Regions from separate parts of the Homo sapiens genome. Here regions 1, 2, 3, 4 and 5 are each linked to region 6. Evidence: fine-mapped expression QTL. A gene starts in region 6. Each other region holds a variant in brackets. All regions are shown on one strand. Distances are from middle to middle.

Region 1 (4,000 bases), 52 kb before region 6:
CATGAGTTCGAGGCTGCTGTGAGCTATGATCGCACCACTGCACTCCAGCCTGGGCAACAGAGCGAGACCCTGTCTCTATTAAAAAAAAATTGTTAACAATACACATTGTTCAGTGTATGTGAAAGTCCATATTTACCTATTAAAAGCCTTAATTTCATTTCCTCCACACATGGGCGTTTCTGGAGCAGTGGACCTGTCTGCCCTGAGCTCTCACCAGGTTGTTCAGGGAGGTTGCCGTCCACATGTCTACTGCTGATAGGGTCTTTTCTCCCTCTTTGCCGGTAGGAGGGGTTGGTTCCCGTCGTCGTACACGAAGTTGCTGGAAGAAAATGAGACAGAAGCAGTGACCGTGCCCACGCCAAGGTAGCCCTGAACGTGGCTGAGCTCTCCCGGTGACAGAAACCCCTGCCTTGTCGTTTCTGTAACACACCACCATCTAGCTGTGTCGCAGGCCCTGCCCTAAGCCTCAGCTCTCGTGGACTAGTCAGAGATGAGACCGCGGCTCACAGTGCTGTCTGCCGTGATTTCTGTTGTCCCCGAGCTTTGCTGCTGTGAGGAGACCCAGCCCAGGCCACCTACTCCTCGCAGTCCTGCAGCCCTCTGAAACTCCCTCCCTGTGCCCTGCCCCTCCTGGTCGCTAAACCCAAGCCATGTGTTTTCCGTCCTTATCTTACACTTATCTTACCGTTCTTATCTTACAGCCCTTAACGCTGTTGTATGCTTTTTCTGGAATGTTCTCTGGCCCCGGCTGCTTGACCTGTGCTCTGTTTGTCTTCTGCCTCACCAGCTCTTTGCACCCCTCTTCTGCCCATCAATTAAACATCAGTGTTCTTGGGAGTCACCCTGGGTCCATCCTTCCTGCCTGTGCTGGGCCATCTCATCCACTCCCATGGCTTGAAATACACTGATGGGCTTTGCTGAGCACCTCCATGCCGAAAACCCCCAAATCCGTATTCCAGATCAGATACTAACAGTAGTTATTGCCTAGAGACTGTCCAAAGGACTTTGCATTGATTTTTTCACTTAATTCTCACAGCAGACCCATGAGGTGGGCCCCCACTTTAAAAAATGAGGAAACTGGCCGGGCACGGTGGCTTGTGCCTGTAATCCCAGCACTTTGGGAGATGGAGGCAGGAGGATTACTTGAGGCCACAAGTTCAGGACCAGCCTGCGCAACATAGCAAGATCCCCATCTCTACAAAAAAAATAAACAATTAGCCAGGGCATAGTGGCATATGCCCATTGTCCCATCTACTCTGGAGGCTGAGGCGGGAGGATCGAAGTTCACAGAACCCCCATAACCCATCCAGCTAGCCAGGTAGAAGGCCTCCAGGTCCGACGTTGCATTCCCCAGGGTCTGATGCTGTCTGCAATCTTCATCCCTAGCAGAAGAGCTAAAATGCCATTGTGCTGGGGAACAAAAACTGAGTAACACTTTTAGGATGTTAAAATTTCAAGTGTTTACATTTTTTTTTTTTTTAACTCTTAGCTCATTGCTCACTCCAGCTTTTGCTAGTCTCCAATTTCTTTCCTTAGATTAAATCAATCAAGAGCCAGCCCCTAATTTAAAAGGTTTCCTCTCCTTTTGTCATGTCTTTTAAATAATTTTTTGGCCAGGCGCAGGGGCTCATGCCTGTAATCCCAGCACTTTGGGAGGCCGAGGCGGGCAGATCACCTGAGATCAAGAGTTCAAGACTAGCCTGGCCAACATAATGAAACCCCGTCTCTACTAAAAAAAAAAAAAAAAAAAAAAACAAAAAACAAAAAAATTAGCTGGGCGTGGTGGCAGGCGCCTGTAATCCCGGCTACTTGGGAGGCTGAGGCAGGAGAATCACTTGAACCAGGGAGGCGGATGTTGCAGTGAGCCAAGATCGCGCCACTGCACTCCACCCTGGACAATAAGAGGGAAACCCCATCTCAAAAAAAAAAAAAAAAATTTCTTGTGAGGATATGTTTAGAAACCACTAAAAACATTAGTGTTTTAGGCCGGGTGTGGTGGCTCATGCTGTAATCCCAGCTGAGGTCAGGAGTTCAAGACCAGCCTGGCCAATATGGTGAAACCCCATCTCAACTAAAAATACAAAAAATTAGCTGGGCACACTGGCGTGCACCTGTAATCCCAGCTACTCAGGAGGCTGAAGCAGAAGAATCACTTAAACCTAGAAGGCAGAGGTTGCAGTGAGCTGACATCATGTCATTGCACTCCAGCCTGGGTGACAGAGTGAGACTCTGTCGCAAAAAAATTTAAAAAATACAGTGTTTTGTATTGATATATGTACTGTGTGTGTCTGTGTGTG[TGA/A]GATCAAGATCAGGTTTTGATTGGTGATGTACTATTACTGTTGTCCTTGGTCAGGGACACAGAGGATGTTTGGGGTTTGGTGGTGAGACATTATCTAACACGTGCTGTGTCCTTTTTGGGTTTGAGCCCCACACCAGTGAGAAGCATCAGCACCGTGAACTTGTCTGAGAATAGCAGTGTTGTCATCCCCCCACCCGACTACTTGGAATGCTTGTCCATGGGGGCAGCTGCCGACAGGAGAGCAGATTCGGCCAGGACGACATCCACCTTTAAGGCCCCAGCGTCCAAGCCCGAGACCGCGGCTCCTGTGAGTAAAGCCGCAGCAGGGCGTCCTGGGTCCTGGACTCGCCATCCCCGACTGGGAGGCGCAGGTCCTGTGGTGACCGCCTTGCTCTGCTCTGTCCCCAGGGGGAGAGTGGTGTCCCCGGGGAGGAGGGAGGAGGGGACTTGCTGCCTTTGATCCTCTAGATTCCCTTCTTTGTCATGCAGCCTTTCACCTCCTTGACTTCAGCCCTTCTTTCATGTGGACTCTATCTTGTCAGTGAGAGTTTACACACAGTCGCCTCTAGTTTGCTAGATTTTATTAGGTTTCTTATCTTTCCTGCCTGGCTGCAGTCTTCTAGCCATTGAATCACCATTTTCTTTCATTTTCTTATTTTCTGAAGAGAGGCTTACATTAAAAGTGGTAACTTCATCTTTCTTCAGAAAGTCTTTACTCCCAGGCACTGTGGATGTTATCTTTAACCCTAAACCTTCTAGGCACGGCGTTTAGGGTTAACGATAACCCTGAAAGATAACCCTAACGTGCCTCTGGGGGCCCAGCATGGAGGTCCTGGGCTCCCGGAACCAGTTCATCCATTCCCGCCACCGCACAGAGGCCCTGGTGTGGGCTCTCCAGCTAGAGGAGAACAAGGCCGGACTCTGCCTGCCTCTTCAGAACTTCTGTTCTAGTGATAGGAAGCAGACAATAAAAAATAAACAAAAACACTGACACTAGAAGCCATGCAGAGAATAACACAAGGTGAGGTGATGGCGTGGTGGGGAGCAGCGCGGCTGGACATCACTCCCGGGCTGGGTTGGCTGAGGTTAGTGCGCCCTGGTGTGAGACCTGTGGGTGAAGGGGAGGAGGCTGGGTGGTGGTGTCTGCACCCCTCGCTCCAGGAGCTGTCTTGCTTTGGGGCGAAGGAGCCAGGCCCCTATACCTTGTGTCCGGGGCCTTAGTTCAGCTGTGAGTGGTGCCCAGGTGTGGAGTGTCTTGATGATATGAAACGGATGTGCTTCTAAGATGTGCCTGCCCCAGACCTACGCGTGAGCCTTGAGGAGTCTGGGAACGTAGACCTGCCTCATTGTAGACTGCATTGGCATGATTTGGTTTAGGAATGCTAGCTTTTGAAACTTCATTCAAAATGTCTTTGAAGCCAGGTGCAATGGCTCATGTCTGTGTAATTCCAACACTTTGGGAGGCCAAGGCAGGAGGATCACTTGAGCCCAGGAGTTTTAGACCAAACTGGCAACATAGCAAAACCCTATGTAGACAAAAAATATAAAAAATTAGCCAGGTACGGTGGCACATGTCTGTAGTCCCAGCTGTTCAGGAGGCTGTGGTGGGAGGATAGCCTGAACCCAGAAGTTCGAGGCTGCTGTGAACTGTGATCATACCACTGCATGCCAGCCTGGATGACAGAGACCCTGTCTCATAAA
Region 2 (4,492 bases), 35 kb after region 6:
GGAGTGCAGTGGTGCGATCTCGGCTCACTGCAACCTCTGCCTCCCAGGTTCAAGCGATTCTCCTACCTCAGCCTCCCGAGTAGCTGGGATTACAGCCATGCACCAACACACCCGGCTAATTTTGTATTTTTAGTAGAGATGGGGTTTCTCTGTGTTGGTCAGGCTGGTCTCGAACTCTCAACCTCAGGTGATCCGCCTGCCTTGGCCTCCCAAAGTGCTGGGATTAAAGGCATGAGCCACCGCGCCCAGCCGCATATCTTCTTTTGAGAAATGTCTATTCATGTCATTTGGCCACTTTTGGATGGGATTATTGGTTTTTTGTTTTTTGTGTGTGTGCTGATTTGTTTGAGTCCTTCTAGATTCTGGTTATGAGTCCTTTGTCAGTTGCATAGTTTGCAAATATTTCCTCCTATCCTGTGGGTTTTCTGTTTACTCTGATGATTATTTCTTTTGCTCTGCAGAAACTTTTTAGTTTAATTAGGGCTCCTTTATTTTTGTTTTTGTTGCATTTGCTTTTGGAATCTTAGTCAGAAATCCTTTGCCCAGGCAAAGCCCTTGAATAGTTTTTCCTAGGTTTTTTTTATAGAATTTGTATGGTTTTAGGTCTAGATGTAAGTGTTTGATTCATCTTGAGTTGTTTTTTTAATATGGTGAGAGATACGGATCCAGTTTCATTATTCTACATGCGACTATCCAGTTTACCCAGCACCATTTATTGTATAAAGTGTCCTTTCCCCAGTTTATGCTTTTGTATGCTTTCTCAAAGATCAATTGGTTGTGGGTATCTGGCTTTATTTCTTGGTTCTCTCTTCTGTTCCACTGGTCTATGTGTCTATTTTTATAGCAGCACCATGCTGTTTTTGTTACTGTAGGCTTGTAGTATAATTTGAAGTCCAGTAATGTGATGCCTCCAGATTTGTTCTTTTTGGTTAGAATTGCTTTGGGCATTGAGGCTCTTTGTGGGTTCCATATTAATTTTAGGATTTTTTTTTCTAATTCTGTAAAAAATGATGACAGTATTTTAATAGGAATTGCATTGAATCTGTAGATTGCTTTGGGCAGTATGATCATTTTCATGATATTGATTCTTCCACTGATTCATCCCATACTCATCAATCCATGAATATGGGATGTATTTCCATTTGTTTCTGTCATCTATGATTTCTTTCAGCAGTGTTTTGTAGTTCTCCTTATAGAGATCTTTCACCTCCTTGGTTAAGTACATTCCCAGGTATTTTATGTTATTTTTTGCAGCTGTTGTAAAAGGGGTTAATTTGATTCTCAGCCTGGTTGCTGCTGGCATGTAGCAGTGCTACTAATTTGTGTGCATTGATTTTGTAACCTGAGACTTTCCTGAACTCATATGTCAAATCTAGGAGTCTTTTGGAGGCGTCTTTAGGGTTTTCTAGGTATTTGATCCTATCATGGGCAAACAGACACACCGTGACTTCCTCTTTTTCGATTTGGATGCCCTTTCTTTCTTTCTCTTGCCTGATTGCTCTGGCTAGGACTTCCCTTGTCCATAGTTTCTGCCTCAGCAGAAAGAGGATCAGGAGGCCGGCCGTGCCCAGCACAATAGGGCGATTATGAGGCTCGGGGGACGCCCCGAGTGTGCAGAAGGCGGAGCTGGCTGCAGCCCAGGCTCCTGAGTGTGGAGAAGCGGAGGAGGCTGTGGCCCTGACTCAGGGGCCAGGACCCTCCTGCCTCCCCAGCAGCTTCCCAAACCCCGAAGTGGTTAGAGCGGGGCCTGGCCACCGGCTGCCGGGCCGCACGGGCAGGAGGGGCCGGGAAGGTCTTCCCCTTTGACCCTCACTGCTTTTCTCCCCAGGAAACCTGTGGTATCGCCAAGGGATCACGCCCAGCTACCCGCAGGGCTCCAGCTGGGAGCACGTGTCCAACAACGTGTGCCGAGTGTCCGTGGGGCCCCTGGACCAGGTGGGGGTGCTCAGGGGGTATCGGGCACTTGGGGTGCTCTGGTTCCCTCTCTGGTCTCCCCCATCCCATGCCCAGCCGTCCCACTGCAGGTAGGGCTGAGGGCTTCATGGGGTCTGTGCTCCAGGTCTGGGTGATCGCCAACAAAGTGCAGGGCAGCCACAGCCTGAGCCGGGGGACAGTGTGTCATCGCACCGGCGTGCAGCCTCACGAGCCCAAGGGCCACGGCTGGGACTACGGCATCGGGGTGAGCGGGGCCCGCGGCCTTGGGCTGTGTTATCACCTTGTGCCTGCACTGGGTGCTGAAGACGGGACGACCACTGTGGGACTGTCCCCTGGGACCCGGTGTCTGGGTTGCAGGGAGGCCCCCAGGCAGATCCCCTCCAGGATCCTCGAGTCCCCGAGTCCCCTGGTGACACAGCTCTCTCCTTCCAGGGAGGCTGGGACCATATCTCTGTCCGGGCCAATGCCACCAGGGCCCCCCGGAGCTCGTCCCAGGAGCAGGAGCCGAGTGCCCCACCAGAGGCCCATGGCCCCGTCTGCTGCTGAGGCCCCCCCACACACCTACATGCAGGGACGGTGCCCAGTTTGGGGGATCAAGGCTGAGCCATTCTTGTGCTGGAGTGTGCACCGTGGGAGCAATGTGGCCCAGGTGGACTCAGGAGGGAACCTGGCCCCAAGGCTGCGGCCACTTCAGAGGCACTGGCTGAGACGGCCCTGAAATGTGAAGCTCCGCGGACACTCCCACACGTGTCCCCGTCTGCGAGGAGTCCCGGGGTGTGGGGCATGGGGTGGGGCTGCACCTCCCAGAGGCC[C/T]CTCCCACCCTTCCCTTCCCCTCTCCCTTCTGCCTTTCCAGGACTAGAACCGGGAACCTGGAGCCCTCCGGGAACGCCGGCCCTGGGGCAGCAGAGCCAGGATGGAGCCCTCCTGAGCTGGCATCTCAGACAGCACCCGGGCCCGCCACCCCTCACCAAGAGAGATGGCCATGGGGCTCAGGGCCTCTTTACCATGTGCAGTGACCATTTCTCAGAGCAGGACTTGCAAAGAGGCTTTAATTTCAAAAGTGAAGGAAGGAGGCCAGGCGCCGTGGCTCACGCCTGTAATCCCAGCACTTTGGGAGGCTGAGGTGGGCAGATCACCTAGGTCAAGAGTTTCAAACCAGACGGGCCAACATGGTGAAACCCCATCTCTGCTAAAAATACAAAAAAAAAAAAATTAGCTGGGCATGGTGGTGGGTGCCTGTAATCCCAGCTACTCGGGAGGCTGAGGCAGGAGAATCGTTTGAACCCGGGAGGCGGAGGCTGCAGTGAGCCGAGATCATGCCACTGCACTCCAGCCTGGGCGACAGAGACTCCATCTCAAAAAAAAAAAAAAAAAAAAGTGAAGGAAGGAGACAGCAGATTGGAAATAACACTGGAGTGGATGGGATGTCCTCTTCCCTGAGGGGGCCGGGGTACCAGACGGGAGGCTGGGAGAGGATGAGAGGCTGCCCCATGGCTGGAGGCAGTGTCCGTGTGTGCAGTCACCATCATCAACCCCCATTCGGCCCCTTCCCCAGATGCGCTGGTGACAGGGGCTTCTTGGATGTCAAATCATGTTGTAGGAGGGTGCAGACTGCGGGCTTCTGTGGGGAGCAGTACTACTGTGTCTGTCGGCAGTGGCCATGGGACCCTCAGCCCGTCCTGTACATGGAGCAGGGTGCACAGTCACCCTCCATCCTGTGGCGAGAGGCTGGCCCGGCCCGGCCAGGCGAGGCAGAAGGTGTCGGCCAAGTGGCCCCGACCCCATCCCGCAGTCTCTCAGCTGCTTTTTATTACCTCTGTGCCCCATTTGGGAGTTTGCTTCCTCCACCTGGACACTTTGCCCGGGAGGTCATCAGAGCCCAACCCCAGGCTCTGCTCGGTTGGAGAGGGGATGACTTCACCACCACCTGACCTTCCTAGGGTCCTGGTCTCACTGTCAGCTGGGGGTCCGTTGTGTGTATTTGTACAGTTTTGCTGTATGGGGTTTGTCACCCAAAAGCTGATGCTGAGAAAGGCCTCCCTGGGGCCCCTCCCGCGGGCATCTGAGAGACCTGGTGTTCCAGTGTTTCTGGAAATGGGTCCCAGTGCCGCCGGCTGTGAAGCTCTCAGATCAATCACGGGAAGGGCCTGGCGGTGGTGGCCACCTGGAACCACCCTGTCCTGTCTGTTTACATTTCACTATCAGGTTTTCTCTGGGCATTACGATTTGTTCCCCTACAACAGTGACCTGTGCATTCTGCTGTGGCCTGCTGTGTCTGCAGGTGGCTCTCAGCGAGGTACGGGGAGGGCGTCACCCTGCAGAACGGCAGAGTGACGCGTCCTCTCGCTGCTGAGCACCAGCTGTTTACCTGCCCTGCATCACTTCCTCGGATACTTTACTCAATAAGCATTTCCCCTGGAGTGTCCGTGCCCTGGTGTTTTTTATCGATACGTTGATTAAAACGCGTGGTTCCCCGTGTGCCTGAAGCAGACATTGCTGTGAAATCTTTTATTTTTGTTTTATGACACAGCATCAATTTCATGAATACTTTGAAAGG
Region 3 (4,000 bases), 100 kb before region 6:
GTACATAGATTGGTCTAGACTGATGAAGTAGTTGGCCAACCACTAAAATAGAACTATGCTAGGTATGGTGGCTTATGCCTGTAATGCCAGCACTTTGGGAGGCTGAGGTGGGAGGATCGCTTGAGCCCAGGAGTTCAAGACCAGCCTGGGCAACATAGTGAGACCCTATTTCTAGAAAAAATAAAAAATTAGCTAGGTGTGGTGGCGTGCACCTGTAGTCCCAGTTACTCAGGAGGCTGAGGTGGGAGGATGGCTTGAGTCCAGGAGGTGGAGGCTGCAGTGAGCTATGATCACACCACTGCACTCCAGTGTGGGCAACAGAGTGAGACGCTGACTCTTAAAAAAAAAAAAACAAAAAACTAATATGCTTCTTTCCTTAAAACAATAAGTAGTAGAAAATATCTTAATGTGCTCACAAAAGGGAGGCAAAATTATGAAAGTATTATTTATCTCTTCTGGCTAAATTTTATAATTTTCAAGTTAATTTAACTTTATCATCATAGCAAAGATATTTTACAAGACCGAGAAGGTTACATGGTTTTCAATGTAAGTCAACAATTAATGAAAAATTGTGATTTCATGTGTGGATGCAAACCAAACATTTTGCTTAAATATTGTGTAATCCTGCATTCCATTCCCGCACTAATTTGCTTTTCAGATGATCAGTACTTTACAACTTAACATCTTCATACTAAGATGTTCCATCTTACAACTTGACAGTTTCCTGGCTACACACCTTGTTTTTAGGTGGAGTCACTTCTTTCTTAGTTCTAGACGAGACCAAAGAATCAGAAAGCACCATAATTTAGAGCTGAGGAAGTGAAGTGCCCAGCCAGAGCTGTGTGCCTTCCCGCTGACTCAACATTGACCTTGGGTATGTCCCAGAATATCTCCACTCCGCTGCCCTTAGCGCAACGGGCTGATGACATTACGGACTGTGTCTCAACATAATTGGATAGATTAACTAAGTATGTATATAAATGCTAATTGCTATTGTTCTTTTTACATTTACACTTTAAGGTTGTTCTGAGTCTTATAATAGTGCAGTAGATAGAATATTGCATTTCCTAAAGTTGGATATGTATATGGTAAAAACCATAACTTTTATATATATATAAATATATATGTACTTTTTTTTTTTTTTTTTGAGACTGAGTCTCACTTTGTCGCCAGGCTGGAGTGCAGTGGCGCAATCTCAGCTCACTGTAACCTCTGCCTCCCGAGTTCAAGCGATTCTCCTGCCTCAGCCTCCCGAATAGCTGGGATTACAAGCATGTGCCACCATGCCCGGCTAATTTTTGTATTTTTAGTGGAGACGGGATTTCACCATGTTGGCCAGGACGGTCTTAATCTCTTGACCTCGTGATCCTCCTGCCTCAGCCTCCCAAAGTACTGGGATCACAGGTGTGAGCCACAGCACCTGGCTATAAATTTTTAACTCTACAATAAATCCTAAAGTAGATTAATGTGCCAGAAAAAATATACTACTGTTTTGGCTTTTCATACCTTCAGCTGGACCTGCACATGAATTAATTCTGTGGCTCACAACTATAATCCAAACACTTTGGGTGACTCAGGCAAGAGGATCCCTTGAACCCAGGAGTTCAAGACCAGCCTGGGCAACAGAGTGAGACCCCTACTCTTAAAAAAAAAAAAAAAAAAATATATATATATATATATATATATATATATTTTTTTTTTTTTTTTTTTTTTTTTTTGAGACAGGGGCCTCACTCTTGCCCACGCTGGAGTACAGTGGTACAGTTGTGGTTCACTGCAGTCTTGACCTTCTGGGCTCACGCAATTCTCCCACCTTAGCTTCCTGAGTAGCTGGGACTACTATAGGCGTGTGCCACCACCACCATGCCTGGCTAGTTTTTTTTGTTTGTTTTCAGTAGAGATATGGGGGGGTCTCCTTATGTTGCCCAGGCTGGTCTCAAACTCTTGGGCTCAAGTGATCCTCCTACCTCAGCCTCGCAAAATGCTAGGAGTACAGGTGTAAGCCACTGCACCCAGCCCCTTCAATTTTTTTTTTTTTTTTTTTTT[TA/A]ATTAGCCAGGAATGGTGGCACGTGCCTGTAGTCCCAGCTACTTGGGAGGCTGAGGCAGAAGGATCCTTTGAGCCCAGGAGGTCAAGGCTGCAGTGAGCCATGATCTTGCCACTGCACTCCAGCCTGGGTGAAAGAACAAGACTCTGCCTCTAAAAAAATAAAATAAAATAAAATCCACCTTGTTAAAACAATTGCCCATTATACATTGCGGCATTGCAGCTGGTATAGCCTCTGGGATTCCCGAGGGCTCTTTTAGCTCCAAAACTGTGTGGTCTCCAAAGCTCCAGGAGAAACTGATTTCTATGTCTGAAACCAATCTTAGAGTAAAATTCCAAATAAATGCTTTTCTCCAAAATTACACTAACCAGGCTGGGTCTCTATCATACATCTTCAATACCCTCAAACCTAGATTGTAAAGTGAAAAAAGTGTATTAGCAGCTTCCATTTGTTCATCTGTCACTCACATTCTTAGGGCATTTTAAGGATGAGCAACCTTTGTTTCAGAAAGGGTAAGTAATTTGCCCCTGGAGGTTACATAGTTATAATTTAGTCTTCAGAATCAGTTCGAAGGGGGCAGTACTATTTTTAAGATAATTAGAACCCACCTTGTAGCAATAAAAGTTTTCTTGTCTTTGCCAAAAAAGAAAAAGTAGAGCATTCAGTTATTTTTTCAGACAATTGTGTTGCTTTTTGGAATGATAATATATTTCAAATTTCATATATTCTCTCCTGGCAACAAATAGGTTGGTTGGTTGTGGCTCAAAATGCCTTTTTCAATAGAAAAATTAAGCACTGCCATCAAAGGACCAGGCTCCTAGTCCACCTCACACAACTCCTAACTAAGAATGTTGCAGACCTGGAGTGCTGGAGAAGAACTAGCTCAGAAAAGATTTCTGGCTGGAGAGGATGTATCTTCTTTTTTTATATTTATTTTTGAGACAATATCTGGCTGTGTCACCCAGAGTAGAATGCAGTGTCATGATCTCGGCTCACTTGCAACCTCCGCCTCCTGGGCTCAAGCGATCCTCTCACCTCAGCCTCCCAAGTAGCTGGGACTGCAGGCACACTCCACCATGCCTGGCTAATTTATGTATTTTTTTTTTTTTTTGTAGAGGCGGGGTTTTACCATGTTGCCCAGGCTGGTCTCAAACTCCTCCCACCTCAGCCTCCCAAAGGGCTGGGATTACAGGTGTGAGCCACCGTGCCCAGGCAAAGCCCTAGTTCAACGTTAGGAACGCATCCACTCTGAAACTGGCATCAGGAGCAAGCTGAGCCTTCTCTGGACTTTCAGCACCTGCTGCTGAAGGTTCCCCGGGGCTGGTCAGAGACGAGGATCTCATGGGGCTGTCCCTTGGCTGGAGGGCCTCCACCCCGGCACCACTCTCAACACAGGTCTTACCTCCTGAGAGCCACACCTGCCACAGCCCAAACCTTCCTGCAGCCAGAAGGGACCAGGGGGTGTTTGGAAGAAAACTTGTGTTGCTTCCTCCTTTCCTTGTCTAAGTGACGATTTTGTGTGTCACCTTTTGTGTCTAGCTATGATCCTGGCAGGAAAAGCCTACTACGATGGAGTGGCCAAGATCGGTGAGATTGCCACTGGGTCCCCCGTGTCAACTGAACTGGGTGAGCGATCTGTCCCTTTATACATAAACCCCACTTGTCATCCTGTGAACCCCAAGAGAAACGCGTGGGATGGCCCAGTCCAGAACAGAGGAGAGATCTGGGCCAGCATGCTGTGGTTCTACTTCACCGCGGTCTGTGGAAATTGATGCTTAGTCGTAGGGTGGGCTGGGACTGGTGCCGGAGGGCGAGTGGAGGCCTTGTTTTCTGGCCAGCCTCCCTGTTCTCCTAGGAACTTGAGCTTTTGCCCTGGGTGCCTGGGCTCTCACCCTTCCCGCTGGGAGTTTGACCTACATTCCTGATGGGCGAGCCGGGCCTCCTGGGGCCTCGGG
Region 4 (4,982 bases), 30 kb after region 6:
GTGCTGGGATTACAGGCGTCAGCCACTGTGCCCAGCAGGCTGTCACCTCTTAGGAGTGCGAGTGCCTGGAGGTGGCTGGCTCTGAGACTGGAGCTCGGTGCTTCCCTGTGGGGTGTTATGGGGGTGTCTGAGTGAGCCAGTTCATTCCCCAGTCTCCCTCGTCACCTGCCCTGTTGTCCTGCCGCAGGGGTCTGCCCACGGACCGGTACATGTGGAGCGATGCCTCGGGGCTGCAGGAGTGCACGAAGGCTGGCACGAAGCCCCCGTCCCTGCAGTGGGCCTGGGTGAGGTCCCGCTGCCCCCTGGGGGGTTGGGAATCCGCCCTCCCACCCCTCCTTGCCCCTCCTCGAGTGTTCTGACTGCCTTCTGGATTCGGGGGGTCCCATCCTCACTGACCCACTCCTCCCAGGTTTCCGACTGGTTCGTGGATTTCAGCGTTCCGGGGGGCACGGACCAGGAGGGGTGGCAGTATGCCAGCGACTTCCCTGCGTAAGCCTCTCCCTGCACAGGGCCTTCGGGCTGGGTCCTGAATGTCAGGGCCCTGGAGTGTGTGGCCTCTGGCCTCACTGCTCTTCCAGGCTGAACCCTGCCCCCTAGGCCTGGCCAAGGAGCAGACCCCTGGTGCCAGCCCTGCTACTGGAGGGGGAGGAGCCAGCAGAGAGGCCAGGAGGGGCCCAGGGGAGTGCTCCCTGCACACGTGGCACCCCTGGCCTCCATGTGTGGCACGGGTAGGAGCACCATGGCTCCCCCACGCCACGTTCATCCCTGCTGTGCCAGGCACGGGCTCTGGGAGGGTCAGATGGTGGCACCCAGGGCACCAGACTGAGGGGCTTGAGGAGGGCGAGTGGCCTCTACAGCCTTAGCAGGGTGAGCTCTGGGGGGCTTTGAGCCAGGCCCTTAGTGTTGAGGGACCCAACACGAGATGTTAGGTGAAGGGGCAGTGTGAGCCCCTCGGAGAGATGCAGTGGCTGTCACGAGGCCCTGGACCCTGGCGGTGCAGGTGCACGGCGTGGGCAGGCCCTTCACGGCACAGTCTCAGCCTGTTGGAAGATGGAGCCAGGACAGCCTGAGCTGGGGCCCAGAGCCAGGTGGCTTCTGAGCAGACCAGGACCGTCCCCTCGGCCACAGCCAGGCCTCCTGGACCACCCTCCGCTCAGCCTCGGGCCTCATCCTGACCGAGGGCTCTTGCTCCCCAAAAGGGCTCTGATGGGGCCTGGGGAGGGGAGGGCTGAGTCCCCTTAGCCTGACCCCTGACAAGTGACTGCTCCGCTCCAGCCCCAGGGAGGCCCGACCCCCTTCCCCAGGGAGACCCCTGCCCCTGGGAGGCCCCAACCCCCAGGAGGCCCTCCCTGCAGGTCCCCAGGGCTGCACTCAACCCTGATCCTGCCGGGGCAGCCAGGAAGCGCCTCCTGAGAGCCGCGCGTGGTGACACCTCCTTCTCTGAACCCCATCCATGGCTTCCACCCAGTCCCCATGCCCTGTAACGGGTAGAACAAGAATGTTTACATGCACGGTCCCTTTCCAGAAACTTCCACGAAGTGGCCCTGATTTCATCTTCTTCCTCCTTGCAGCTCATACCATGGGTCCAAAACGATGAAGGATTTTGTGAGGAGGAGGTGCTGGGCCAGGTGAGGCAGGGCTGCAGGGTGACTGTCACGGTCAGGCTCCTGGAGGAGCCACCCTTGAGGGAGCTCTGGTTCCCTGCACCCCGGGCCAGATCTCCTGGCCTCTGACCTCAGTCCCAAGGGAAGAAGCAGTGGGGAGTAGGGTGAAGAGGGAAGCCGAATCTGAGTAAATGTCAGCCCAGGAAATGCCCGCAGGCTCCCGGTGCTCTCTGGTTTCAGAATAGTTTGTTTTCATGAACAAATAAGAGAAATGTCACTGGCACACTCCACCTGTGAGCGGGACAGAGAACGGGGCCTGGCTGGGGCTGGGGGTGGGGGTGGGGGCCTGGCTGGGCCTGGATGGGGGTGGGGGTGGGGAGGAGGCCACCTCTGGGCCCCTCTTTCTACCCGCCCCGGGGTTGGCTGCTTTCCTCCTCCTGGCTCCAGAGGCAGAGGCCCTGGAGCCTGGTGGTCACCTTGGGGTCCCTGGGCTGTGTCCCCTCTCCACTGTACAGAAAATGCAAGCTGGTGACCAGTGGGCCCTGGCTGGAGGT[G/A]CCCCCCATCGCCCTCAGGGACGTGTCCATCATCCCGGAGAGCCCGGGTGCCGAGGGGAGTGGGCACAGCATCGCCCTCTGGGCCGTCAGCGACAAGGGGGATGTGCTGTGCCGCCTGGGCGTGTCGGAGCTCAACCCTGCGGTGAGTGCCGGGGCCAGACAGATTCTTCTTGAAATGAGACCTTTGCTCTGGAGTCCGGCAGGGCTCAGACCCTGCTCAGGACAAGCCCCTAGGACCAGTGGACACTGCCTGTGGTCCGAGTGGGTCCCTGTGCCCTGGGGCAGTTGGCCCAGGAATGAGGCGGGTGGGGCGGGGGTGACAGAGGTGGGCCAAGGGGACACTGCGGCTCTTTGGCACCCAGTCCTTGGTGGTCAGCACCCCGGTGAGGTGCACACGCCCACGGGGGCGCTTTCCCTGCTCGCAGGAGGATGAGATGCGCCCAGGATTTCAACAAGCACCGAGATCAGGCCGGGTGGGGCTGTGTGACTCCCGGCTGTCCCCCAGCCACCTATGCTGCCCACGCGCTAGGCCCATTTCTGCTGGTCCTGGAGGTGGGGCCCTGGGGGTGGGGGCCCTGGTGACCTCAGCGCCCCTCCTTGCTATCCCCAGGGCTCCTCCTGGCTGCACGTTGGCACCGACCAGCCCTTCGCCTCCATCTCCATCGGGGCCTGCTACCAGGTGTGGGCCGTGGCAAGGGACGGCTCCGCCTTCTACCGGGGATCCGTGTACCCCTCGCAGCCAGCCGGTGAGTGCCGCGCCCCAGGAGCCCCTGCAGTGTTCACCTTCCGTCCAAGCTGATGTTTGCTGAACATCCCCTCTGGGCCAGGGTCCCCCAGAAGCTGGGACTTCCCCCAGAAGTGGGAGTCCCCCTCCCACTGGGACTGACTGGGAGGTGGTCACCCTGGTAATGGGGCAGCTGGAGCCAGGCCTGCCTGGCCCTTCCTGGGGTGGCCCCTGTGTCTCGGCCCTGCAGGGTCCACTCCACAGTGACCAATCTGGTGGCTGCCCGGGAGGACGGGCTGTGCTGGCTTGTTCTTCTCCAGATGTCCAGTGTCCAACACGGGGACGCTGGTACTCAGCTGCCCTCTGCACAGGGATGGGTTAGCAGGGCAGCCCCTGAGGCTGGGTCTCCACCATGAGCTGCACAGGAAGCCTTTGTGTTGCGCTGGCAAGATGAGTCCATCGGAGCCCGCCATGGCTTCCAGAGACCCCAGGCACAGTGCTGGGTGGACGGCAGGGCACGTGTCAGCTCTGTGTGGCACACAGCTGACACCAGGCTACACATCCGAGAGGCAGCTGGGGACCGAGGCCCACAGCCCCACCTGGCCCATGCAAGGAGGAGAAGGCAGCGTGCCTGAGTCAGCCTCCCCTTCGCAGGTGACTGCTGGTACCACATCCCGTCCCCACCGAGACAGAGGCTGAAGCAGGTGTCCGCGGGGCAGACGTCGGTGTATGCCCTGGATGAGAATGGCAAGTTGCTCTTTTTTTAAATTTTTAATGTTTTGGCTGGGCATGGTGGCTCACACCTGTAATCTCAGCACTTTGGGAGGCCGAGGCCAGCGGATCACCTGAGATCAGGAGTTCGAGACCAGCCTGGCCAACATGGTCTGCATGACACAGTGAGACTCTATCTCAAAAAAAAAAAAAACTTTAATTTTTATGGGTACAGAGTGGGTGTGTATATTTATGGGGTACATGAGATGTTTTGATACAGGCATGCATGCATAATATCACATCAGGGTAAAGGGAGTATCCACCTCCTCAAGCCTTTATGTTACAAACAATCCAATTCTACTCTTTTAGTTATTATTGTTATTATTTTTTCTTTGAGATGGAGTTTCGCTCTTGTCTCCCAGGCTAGAGTGCAGTGGTGCAATCTCGGCTCACTGCAACCTCCACCTACTGAGTTCAAGCGATTCTCCTGCCTCAGCCTCCCAAGTAGCTGGGATTACAGACACGCACCACCACACCTGGCTAATTTTTATATTTTTAGTAGAGGCGGGGTTTCACCATATTGGCCAGGCTGGTCTCAAACTCCTGACCTCAAGTGACCTGCCCACCTCGGCCTCCCAAAGTGCTGGGATTACAGGTGTGAGCTACCGCGCCTGGCCCTCTTTCAGTTATTTTAAAATGTACCATTAGCCAGGCACAGTGGCTCATGCCTATAATTCCAGCACTTTGGGAGGCTGAGGTGGGCGGATCACTTGAGATCAGGAGTTTGAGACCAGCCTGGCCAACTTAGTGAAACCCATCTCTACTAAAAACACAAAAATTAGGCCAAGCGCGGTGGCTCACACCTGTAATCCCAGCACTTTGGGAGGCCGGAGCAGGCGGATCACAAGGTCAGGAAATCGAGACCATCCTGGCTAACAGTGAAACCCTGTCTCTACTAAAAATACAAAAAATTAGCTGGGCGTGGTGGCGGGTGCCTGTAGTCCAAGCTAATCGGGAGGCTGAGGCAGGAGAATGGCGTGAACCCCAGAGGCGGAGCTTGCAGTGAGCCGAGATTGCGTCACTGCACTCCAGCCTGGGTGACAGAGCGAGACTCCGTCTCAAAAAAAAAAAAGCCAGATGTGGTAGTGCGCACCTATAATCCCAGCTACTCAGGAGGCTGAGGCAGGAGAATCGCTTGAACCTGGGAGGAGGAGGATATTGATTGCAGTGAGCCAAGGCATGCCACTGCACTCCAGCCTGGGTGACAGAGCAAGACTCTGTCTCAAAAAATAAAATAAAAATAAAAATAAATAAAGTAAAATGTACCGTTAAAAAATTTTTTTTTTGTTTTTGAGACGGAATTTCATTCTTGTTGCCCAGGCTAGAGTA
Region 5 (4,982 bases), 32 kb before region 6:
GCAGAACTCGCTGTCACTTGACAGCAAACTCACCTGGCAGCAACATGTGACCTGAACTGGTGTGTGGCTATTTATAGTCGTAATTTATCCTACTTTATCTGAATATTCATGTCTTGCTGCAGAAATATTAAAGTTTTAACTGCAGTACTGCCCTAGACCTCAAAAGGAGTGTTGGCATCATTTACTTTTTAAAACCCCAAATCTTCTGAACTGAGAAACACAATCCAGATTCTAGGTCAAGACTCCCCAAGCTGCAGGGCAGTCCTGTCCCCAGCACTGGAGGGCAGAAGGGGAACCCCTGCCCCGGAACACCTGCGGTCCCCACAGCCTCGAGTTCTCCTCCCTTCCAAACCCGGAAGAGCCCACCTGAGTTGGTGAGGTGGGTTTCAACCTTCTCAACCGCTCTGGTCCTGACCGGCTCTCTCTAGCCGCCCCTCCCCCATTCTTGTGCAATAAGCCACGCGGCCAGGGAGGGACCATGGCCACTGGCGAAATTAGGGAACTGACTAATTCCAAGAGCACTCCCTTAAGGCGACTCCAGTCCTGCAGTGAAAGTGGCCAGTCATGCCACTGTCATCCACTCAGAGCTGGGCCCTGGGACAGTAGAGGCCGCGGGGCTCCCGCCTCACCAAGGACAGAGGGGGCTGGCAGCAGGGCTCTGAGCTGCCCAGGGAGAAGGCCATCCTCGCCCTCCCTGTGTCCCCACAGGCACTTTACAGGAGGCTGAAGCTGAGGGTGTGTCCAGGGACTCCCAGCCGGGAAAGGCGTGGCTGGGATCTGAACCCAGATGGGCTCCCCAGTCACGAGCACCCATCCTGCAGGTCCCAGTTCTCCCTCCCAGGTAGCCCCCAAAGGCAGTGTCACAGGGGGCTGGCCCTAGGGCACCAAGCTGCCCTCTGCGCACATGGTGGCCTCAAGGCACCATCCACGCCCAGGAACAACCCCAGACCACCACCCCGCTGGAAGGCCAGGCCTCGCCAGGAAAAGGGGAGACGCAGGGCTTCCTCAGAGGGCTGAGGGCCTGAAGCCATGCTCAGCGCAGGGCGAGGTGGCCCCAAAGCAGCTCCAGCCAGGCTCTGGCTGTCCCAGGGTGTCCACTCCCCACAGGGGAGCTGCCTGGCTTAGGGACAGTTCACCAGGACCTCCCAGGGCCATTCCCAGCAAACCCAATGGCCAGGGCCAGCCCTCGCCTCCCCTGTGGAAGAAAGGCCTGAGAAGGTGCCCGGAGACTCTGCCTGCCACCACACCCACCCCAGCAGTGCCACTTGGCCCACAGCTGGGGGCTGAGCCCAAGGTCAGAGACTCAGGAGGCCACTGAGGGAGCACTTGGGCACCGAGGTCTGCAGCCCTGCCCAGCAAGCAGCCCAGGCCCAAGCTCCGGCCCATCCGCTGCCCCCACACCTCAGGCCAAGACTGTCAGGACGGGGACAGCCCACAGGCCATACATATGGGCAGAGCCATCCCAGCTAACTCAGCCACTTCCTCAACCAGGGGAGCTCTGGCTTCCAGGTCACAGGTGGTAGGAGGGAGCAGCCCCTCCACCTCCATCGTCTGGAAGCCCAAGGCTGTCACAGGCTCCTTCCCCTCCAGCCCCTCCCGGGCTCCACAGTCACCACCCCGTGCCCTCCACAGCCCACCTCTGCCCCCCAAGGGCCGTGGCAGCCTCCACGCTGGCCACTGAGCCGCACCCTGGACCTCTGAGCGACATCCGCCCTCCACAGCTGTTCTTTTCACCTTCCCTAGGAAAAGTGAAATCCTTTCCAGGATTTCCTCTCTCTCTGGTCACCCCCAAAACTAAATACCCAGTGACAGCCCAGCCAGTACTCATGGGGGCCTGGTGCAGGCCAGGGGCCTTCCCCACTCCTGCCTTCCCCGCTTGCAGGACGCAGGCTCTGCTCCAGCCCAGGAGAGCCTCCCAGCGCAGCTACCTCATCCTGCACCTAGGTACAACCACACCCCCAGCAAAGAATGACTGGCCTCCCTGGGCAAGGGAGAACCTGGCTTCAGGGAGGCCCAGGCCTTGGGCAGGGCAAGGCAGGGCAGGGCAGGGCAGGGCAGGGGTGAAGCAGGAGGGTGGGAGGAGCAGGGACATATCCGCCGCCAGGCTGCGGAAATGCTTCCTCATAAACGGCTAGAAAGGGAAGATGGAGTCAGGCAGCTTCAGCGAAGGCCTGGCCAGGGCAGCAGAGCCACAAGGGACACGGGCTTCTCTGGCCAAGCCTCACTCAGAAGGACTAACAGATGTGTGACTTGGGCAAATTCCTGCCATGCCACCAGGCAGGGAGGGGGACAGAGCCCGGCGGGCTGGACCTGGGGCAGGAGGAAGTGTGGTCATGTGAGTGGTATCCTGTCTCCCGGGCCAAGACGCCAGGCAGCGGCCAGACGTGTGTGTTGTGTGTTCAGGGAACCGTCTCCACTCTCCTCGCAGAGAGGAGTGGCCCAGGGACCACACACCCCACCCACGCCAGCAGCAGAGCACCCAGCCCCCTGCTCGCCCTCTGGCTGCCACAGGGCACAGGGGCCCATCCCATGCCCAATGCAGCTGCAGAGGCAAAGCCTCGGGGAGCCAGAGCCACTCTCCAGCATCCAAGGCACCACGGGCAGAGCGCAGGGACGTGTGTGCTGGGAGGGCCTGGCTGCAACCCAAGGGGTCGCCGCAGGATCCAAGAGTGCTCTGGTCCCAACTTAAAGGACTAAGGACCCCCCAACCTTGTCCAGAGAGGACCCAGCCTCCACCCTGCCTGGTGCAGCTGCCCAGAGGCAGAGAGCAGTGATTAAGTAACCAAGGACCCCACACCCCTACAGCCTCTGAGGGCCGAGCCCAAGATCCTTCCCAGCAGAGCACAGTCTGACCCCGCTCCAGGTTCTGCATAACTGGAGAGCACCTCCAGGTTAGCGGAAGCCATGGGCCTCCGCAGGGACACAGTTCCCACCTAGGGAAGGGGAAGTGGCAGGGCCAGTGCCCCCATACCGACAGCAACTGCGCCACCACCTCGGCGCCCCCCAGCCCTGGGATATCTGG[C/G]CCATCCCTCGCTGCCGCTGGTCTCTCACCTCTCCAAGTTCAGGGGTTTGGGCAGAGAAGAGCTAAGAGCTTCAGAGACACCTCACCAGACACCCCCACGTCCCAGGTGGGGAAACAAGCCCCGCTGTTCCTGGCAGGACCAGGACCGGAACCCGGCTCCTCCGGCAGGCTGGACACCGGGATGGCAGGGCATGGACAATGACACGCAGGCAGACCCTCTGCTCCTCCATGTTCTGAGTCCCCTCCATGTGCCTTCACACTCACACAGCTCTGCCAGCCCCCCAACCCGGTGCAGCTCCGGGAGAGAACTATGTCCCGAAGGCAGCCAGCGCCCCACCCTGCCCTCCCTCCACCTTCACTCCAAAGGCTAATGTTTCTGCTGGGTGGTGACCAACTGTGTCAAACTGACGTCCCAGTTAGGGTTTGTCACGGGGTCCCTGTGCAGGCAAGCAGCCACAACCTGCCCCCGAGGTCCCAGCCTCTTGTCCCCACCTCTAGGTTGCCCTTCCTTCCCAGGAAGTTGCCTGCTAAGGCTCTGAAATCACTCACTTCCCCGTGACTCCACTCTAGGCCTTACACACACACTTTTGAAATCAAGTCTAAGTCCAAACCAGGGTTTCTTAATTCCATCTCAGTGGCTTCAACTTCCTCCTCCGAGACACAGCTGAAAACCCTGTCCCGGCCAACTCTGCCCCTACTTTCTAAGCAATCTGAACACCCCCAGCTGCCAAGGGTTTATATTTAATTAATCCTTATTTAAATGTGAATCCTCAAAACCTCCACAAAACAAGCCTCTAGCTGCACCTCGGGGCCCTATAAAAACCAAAAAGCGTGTGCAGGTCCAATGCGAGGATATGAAAAAAATAACTCCTGCCTCAAAGAAACACGGGGTTTCCATCCTGGTCCAGCTCGTGGAAGAGCGTTTCAAGCCAACTTTGGATAAAGCAGCTCTTACGGCCGTCGCTTCTCCCACTGAGGTCTGTCCTGCTGGTGCACTTACTTCCAAATGCCCCTTCCGGGAAAATGAAACCTTCCACCACCTTCGACGATCAACTGCAGAGTAAACTTGCGGAAAGTGAAGGAAAAAGCAGACACCTGATTCCTTGCAAGTCCCAGAACAAAGACGAAAGGACCACGAGTCCCGTTGTTACCATTTCTACATCCCAATCACTTGGGGTGCAATGCCCCAAGATCTAGGAAAAGGAATCCACCCTTTTGCCCCCACAAAATGTGTTCAGAGCCAAGGGTGAGCGGACCCGCACTCTCCCACACCGCATTCGGGCAGCCTGTCTGTCCCTCCCATAAAGGGCTCTGGTCAAGATCCAAGTCAAGCCGGACCCACTCCCACAAGCAGAGCTGTGAGGTCCTGGGGGTTAGGGCGGGGGTCCTCAGAGCTTCCAGGGCCAGTCCCCAGGCTGCAGACCCACTCACCTGCAGACAGGACAGCCTCCTACGACCACGATAGAGTTGGCAGGATAGCGGGTGACGGTCCGGCTGTGGATGTTGTAGACCCTGGGATGGTGGGTGGGTATCCCTGTGGGCGGGAAAGCAGGTCATTAGGGTGCAGGGAGGAGAAATCGGACCGCCACGGGGACTACTCATCCTGTCCCCTCAACCTCCACCCCGCTAAAAAAGCCCCCGGTCTTTTCCACCCTCGGGACGGCCACCGCGGGCCTGATTCGGCGCTAATCTGCCAACAGCGAGCGCCTCGTGACACAAAGTTCATCTGGGGCAGGGATCCGGCCCCGCCGGGTTACGACGGGCCCGAGGACTAGAGCCCCGGGGGGGAGGCTGGCCCTCGGCGGCGCCGGGTCCCGAAGCCAGCCCGGGGACCTCCAGCTCCAGGAAGGACCCCCGGGCGGGCCCCACCCGCCTCCGGACCCACGTCCCCCGACCGGGCTTGCCACCTCGGAAGCCGCCGGCGGGGAAAGTTGGTTACGGGCCCACCTGTGACGAGGTA
Region 6 (4,982 bases):
AAGACAAATGCATATGTGATTTCTTCCTCTGTCCTATTGTTTATACAAAATGCAGATTCACTGAGCCAGACAGTGAGTAAGGCATATGTGACTATTCCTCTACCCACTCTCACATGTAAATTGTGTATTCAGTGAAAGGCTGATCACAGACTCAAAAGAAAGCAAACTTTTGGCCGGGCATGCTGGCTCACGCCTATAATCCCAGCACTTTGGGAGGCTGAGATGGGTGGATTACCTGAGGTCAGGAGTTCAAGACCAGCCTGGCCAACATGGTGAGATCCTGTCTCTACTAAAAATAAAAAAATTAGCCTGGCGTGGTGGCACACACCTGTAGTCCCAGCTACTCAGGAGGCTGAGAAAGGAGAATCGCTTGAACCTGGGAGGTGGAGGTTGCAGTGAGCTGAGATCTCACCACTGCACTGCAGCCTGGGTGACAGAGTGAGACTCCCTCTCAAAAAAAAAAAAAAAAAAAAAGAACTCGGGATAGGGGGACATGGGTCCCCAAGCCCCTGAATTCAGGAAAACTATATTGAACTTTGTCACCACACATGAAAACTGCAAGGGGCCACAGAAAGCTCCTAATTCAATGCCTCTTTTTCATTTTTTTTCAATGCCTCTTTTAATGTGGAAACTAAAGCTAAAGAGGAGATAAATGGCTACAGAGTGTCACAGGCAGGACAGAACCCAGGGCTCCCTACCTCTAGACTGTTTCTCCAGCAGTCTAGCGACCACTCATCCTCCTTTTTTTTTTTTTTTTTTTTTTTTGAGACAGAGTTTTGCTCTGTTGCCCAGGCTGGAGTGTAGTGGCACAATCTCAGCTCACTGCAAGCTCCGCCTCCTGGGTTCACCTCATTATCCTGCCTCAGCCTCCCGAGTAGCTGGGACTACAGGCGCCCGCCACCACGCCCGGCTAATTTTTTGTGTTTTTAGTAGAGACGGTGTTTCACCATGTTAGCCAGGATGGTCTCATCTCCTGACCTCATGATCCACCCGCCTCGGCCTCCCAAAGGGCTGGGATTACAGGCGTGAACCACTGCGCCCGGCCCACTCATCGTCCTTCTGCTAATAGCACCCTGATCTTCCTCTGAGGAGCCACCCCCTGTGCCTGGCTGAGCCCTTATGCTTGAGGGGGGCTCTGCCCACATCTCCAGACCAAGTCCACAAATGCCAGTCCCTCAGGCCCAAGCTAAAGTCAGGGTCAGACACAGGACTCCACAGAGCCATCCGGGGTGAACAAGAGGCTTCTGGGGGCGTTTTCTTCCACTGGAGCTGGCCTGTGTGGGGCTTCCCCAAACATGAAGGCCCAGGAAAAGCCTGTGTGCAACCCCAGAAATGAGACAGAACTAGAGGGGGAGCAGGAATAGGTCCCTAGGTCCAACCAGGTGACATTGGTTTAGCTCAATGTCGGGTAGTATCTAGCCTTCCATCAGATGCCCTTTTTTTTCTTTTTTGAGAAGGAGTTTTGCTCTTGTCGCCCAGGCTGTAGTGCGGTGGCACAGTGGCACGATCTCAGCTCACTGCAACCTCCACCTCCCCAGTTCAAGCGATTTTCCTGCCTCAGTCTCCCGAGTAGCTGAGATTACAGGCATGCGCCACCACCCCTGGCTAATTTTGCATTTTTACTAGAGACGGGGTTTCACCATCTTGGCCAGGCTGGTCTCAAACCCCTGACCTCAAGTGATCCGCCCGCCTTGGCCTCCCAAAGTGCTGGGATTACAGGTATGAACCGCCGCACCTGGCCGACATCTTTCTTTTTTCTCCTTTCTCCATCCTAACCTTGCCAGTTTTCTGCCAGGCGGGATACAGTGTTTTCAAATCCCAGTTCCATCGCTTACAACGTGAGTCGCTCCATCTCTGAGCCCGTGTTCGCATTTGTAAAATGGGAATGACGCCGCCAGCTCTTTGGGTTGCTGGGAGGATGAAATGAGAAGACCCAAGTAAAGCACTTACGTCAGTGCCCGCCACCCCGGGAGGACTCGCATATTACTATTAATATATTAGGCCAGCTTACACTGGGTTTTGTCACTGACAATAGAGTTTGAGCAATCCAGGGCCTGTTACTGACACCACACCATGCTATAGTCACAAAATCACATATGCTTCCAGGACTCCTCCTCGAAAGAGTAAAGCTTTAAGTGTAGTGTGTGCTCAAGGGCTACGTTTCAGTTCGATGGATACCAGGAAGACACCTGTTCCCTGCGTCCTCTCCACGCCCCAGGCCGGGCGCCCACACCCTGCTCCTCCTGACGCCGCACAGCCACGCACCCAGGTACCCTCTCCGCCACCCCTTCTCCTCGCCTGCAGGCGGTGTCCACACCGCCCTCTCCGCTCCTGCAGACCGGGTCCTGGAGGGCGGCCGGGCGGTCCACGGGCCGGTGTCGCGCCGCCAGAGAGAACGCGGCAACTCGCTTCAGCCGACTCTGGACTCCTGACCTGGCGCGACCCCGGAAGTGGGCGGGCGCGCGACCTCGAAGCCAGCACCGACGCGGCGCACCGCAGCCAATCGCACGTCCCAGGTCGCAGCGTCCTGGCGAGGCTGGCCAATGGGCACGGGGCCTGATGCCGCTTCCGGCCCACCCTCTTGCCCGGTCCCCGGGAGGGCCGGTCCGCTCCTCCCGGACGCCGAGGACCTACCACCGCGACTTCGCCCCGCCCGGCGCGGGCCCAGGTGAGTGCAGAGTGGCGCCCCAGCTGCAGCGGCGGCCAGGGCCGTGGGAAAGAATGGGGCGATGAAGGGCTGGGCACGCCGCCTTCCCCACCACCCCCAGGCTGTTTGCTCGCGGGGAGGGAGGAAGGAGGGACCGCACTTGTCATCTCGCCTGCACACCTGGAAGGTGCCGCCCCCGTCCCCTGCCCTGGAACGCCCACAGGCTAGCGAAGTTGCCTGGTGCAGGTGACGCCCCCATTCCAGCCTTTGGACTGGAGCCATAGGAGAAGCGGATCGCGGGATCCTGGTTGTTTTCGAGAATCACGCAGCAAGGGGCCTGCCTATCCCTCTCCCTGGGTATTGATGGGAGCAAATCTGCTTGTCGTAAGATTAGCTTTGGCAGATGGTCAGGGCCCAGAGCTCCGACATATGCTACTGGTGGCAGTGCAGGGGCCCCACCTGTCACCCAAGTGCACAGCACTGGGCTGAACGCCAGGCTGACTCAGGACACCTCCTGCCCGGTGGGGCTGGGCGGACCCTATTCTTCAGGAAAGAATCAACTACCATGCAAGTTCTGCTGCTTTTTCCCACCTTTTAGGACCCTGATGTCGCTTTTGAACAGCCCCTGCACCTGGCAGCCAGCGAGCTACTGTAGTAGGCATTGCCGACTGTTTGCATACCGGATGGGAGTGACAGTGTAATAGAAAAACAAGCAAGAAACCTTTTAGGTAGGACTCCTAAGGCTCAGAGGAAGTAAGTGCTTGCGGAGCGTTCTTTGTACTGTGTCTTTTCCTCTACCACATCTCTGTCCCCGCCTCTCTTGGGTGCTTTTTTTGGTCTCTGAAAGGATCTGTGAATAAACTGAGACAGAAAGGCAGATGGCTTTGAGGGTGGCGAGCAGACCTTCTTCGTGGAAAGACTGAAGGTTCAACTCAAATTCATCTTGTAGAAATTCTTGGTGAATTCGAGGCTGCTGATTTGGAAGATTTTCCTCCATCCCTCTAACCCTACAAAACAAACAAGTCCCAGGATCCCTGAATCATGGGGCTTCATGTTCCAACCCCCCTTTCAAGAGTCCTCTGACCCAGTGACCCTGTGTAAGTTGCCTGATCAGCTCACAGCCAGAAAGTGGCCCATGAGGAGCTAGGGGGAGCCTCTTGGCAGAGGCAGAAAGAAAGTGTGGCTGACCAAGGATGGTTACCGGATGTCAACTGTAGCTAGGAAGTGACGACAGGTGCCTGGGTCTCTACTCTGAAGGGAGTTTGTAAATACAGCAACCCCCCACCCCTCCCTTTCACTGTAGCAGAGTCTTCTCCCATTAACTGCCCAGAAGATTCAATGATGTCTATGAGGAAATTAGTGCTTAGTCATTTATTTGAAGGAAAGTCAAAATCTCCTTTCATTGAGCTCAACCTGCAGACTGAGTCTAGCTAAACTGCTTGCTTATCCAGTGAATTCTGAGCTATCTTTGTTTTGTTGTTGTTGTTGTTGTTGTTTGTTTTCCTTTTTGAGACAGGGTCTCGCTCTGCTGCCCAGGCTGGAGTGCAGTGGCACAATCATAGCTCACTGTAGCCTCAAACTCCTGGGCTCAAGTGATCCTCCTGCCTCAGCCTCCCAAGTAGCTAGGATCACAGGCATGTGCCACCACACCTGGCTAATTTTTTTTTTAACTTTTTATTTTTACAGAGATGGGGTCTCCCTGTGTTGCTTAGGCTGGTTTTGAACTCCTCGGCTCAAGCGATCCTCCCACCTCAGCCCCGGAAAGGGCTGGGATTACAGGCATGAGCTACTGCACCTGGCCTCTGAGCTATCTTTGAAGGCTAACTTATATTTAACACTATAGAAAGTGACAATTAAAAAAAAAAACCTTCGTCTTCCCCTAGCATTTTATTGAGGATTTTCCCACATACAGCCAAGTTGAAAGAATTATACAGTCAGCATCCCCATCCCCACCAACTAGATTCTACTATTGACACTTTACTTGCTTTATCACATATCTGTCCACCAATTATGACCTTACTTTTCAAGTTATTTGTGGCATTTGTTTTCCCTGGAGAAGTATTTCTGTCTTAGATCAGGGAGTTGGCAGTGTGTTGGAGGTAGGTGGTGGTGATTATCCTTAAATGTTGTTTCAACACCCACTGTGTGCAGAGACTATTATGGAAATGAAGAGGCTGAAGACTCAGACCTGAAAGGGACTTGGTTTTTTGTTTTTCTTTTTTTTTTTTTGAGATGGAGTCTTGCTGTGTTGGCCAGGCTGGAGTGTGGTGACACGATCTTGGCTCACTACAATCTCCTCCTACCAGGTTCAAGCGATTCTCCTGCCTCAGCCTCC

Alleles and levels. Alleles are on the strand shown, and positions count from the first base shown. SD is a standard deviation of normalised expression in the study named. Not every link is listed here.
For the expression in monocytes of the gene that starts at base 2,562 in region 6, allele TA in region 3 goes with a lower level than allele A (moderate effect, 0.69 SD a copy in CEDAR).

Evidence for each region. PIP is the estimated chance that this variant, and not a neighbour inherited with it, causes the effect.
Region 1: its variant is fine-mapped to the expression of TECPR1 in whole blood (TOPMed, PIP 0.99).
Region 2: its variant is fine-mapped to the expression of TECPR1 in whole blood (TOPMed, PIP above 0.99). The same link has a PIP of 0.9 or more in esophagus muscle, sun-exposed skin, thyroid, tibial artery and unexposed skin.
Region 3: its variant is fine-mapped to the expression of TECPR1 in monocytes (CEDAR, PIP 0.95).
Region 4: its variant is fine-mapped to the expression of TECPR1 in whole blood (INTERVAL, PIP 0.97).
Region 5: its variant is fine-mapped to the expression of TECPR1 in whole blood (TOPMed, PIP above 0.99). The same link has a PIP of 0.9 or more in blood mononuclear cells.

What each region holds. Positions count from the first base shown.
Region 1 is chr7:98,302,802-98,306,801 of GRCh38, reverse strand. BAIAP2L1 (BAR/IMD domain containing adaptor protein 2 like 1) reads left to right here. Exons shown (of 14, transcript NM_018842.5): 11 at 286-363; 12 at 2,426-2,606. It also overlaps a transcript of BRI3 not described here. Among named protein-coding and RNA genes, the nearest start is that of BRI3, 23 kb to the right of the region's middle. RefSeq lists enhancers at 1-457, 458-958. The variant TGA/A (reference allele first, on the strand shown) is at 2,298.
Region 2 is chr7:98,215,379-98,219,870 of GRCh38, reverse strand. It overlaps BHLHA15 (basic helix-loop-helix family member a15), which reads right to left. Exons shown (of 2, transcript NM_177455.4): 2 at 4,414-4,492. It overlaps TECPR1 (tectonin beta-propeller repeat containing 1), which reads left to right. Exons shown (of 26, transcript NM_015395.3): 24 at 1,829-1,935; 25 at 2,060-2,179; 26 at 2,368-4,492. The coding sequence ends at 2,481. Among named protein-coding and RNA genes, the nearest start is that of BHLHA15, 6.2 kb to the right of the region's middle. RefSeq lists an enhancer at 1,526-1,585. The variant C/T (reference allele first, on the strand shown) is at 2,748.
Region 3 is chr7:98,354,713-98,358,712 of GRCh38, reverse strand. BAIAP2L1 (BAR/IMD domain containing adaptor protein 2 like 1) reads left to right here. Exons shown (of 14, transcript NM_018842.5): 3 at 3,585-3,671. Among named protein-coding and RNA genes, the nearest start is that of BAIAP2L1, 44 kb to the left of the region's middle. The variant TA/A (reference allele first, on the strand shown) is at 2,047.
Region 4 is chr7:98,220,308-98,225,289 of GRCh38, reverse strand. It overlaps TECPR1 (tectonin beta-propeller repeat containing 1), which reads left to right. Exons shown (of 26, transcript NM_015395.3): 18 at 188-284; 19 at 410-489; 20 at 1,572-1,628; 21 at 2,120-2,300; 22 at 2,769-2,904; 23 at 3,537-3,629. Among named protein-coding and RNA genes, the nearest start is that of BHLHA15, 11 kb to the right of the region's middle. The variant G/A (reference allele first, on the strand shown) is at 2,159.
Region 5 is chr7:98,281,925-98,286,906 of GRCh38, reverse strand. BRI3 (brain protein I3) reads right to left here. Exons shown (of 3, transcript NM_015379.5): 1 at 4,970-4,982; 2 at 4,454-4,556. Among named protein-coding and RNA genes, the nearest start is that of BRI3, 2.7 kb to the right of the region's middle. RefSeq lists an enhancer at 124-836 and a silencer at 4,730-4,982. The variant C/G (reference allele first, on the strand shown) is at 3,023.
Region 6 is chr7:98,249,812-98,254,793 of GRCh38, reverse strand. TECPR1 (tectonin beta-propeller repeat containing 1) reads left to right here and starts at 2,562. Exons shown (of 26, transcript NM_015395.3): 1 at 2,562-2,668; 2 at 3,246-3,400. It overlaps LOC124901706 (a long non-coding RNA gene), which reads right to left and starts at 2,435. Exons shown (of 2, transcript XR_007060448.1): 1 at 2,266-2,435; 2 at 1-1,910. RefSeq lists silencers at 2,276-2,375, 2,466-2,855 and an enhancer at 2,172-2,915.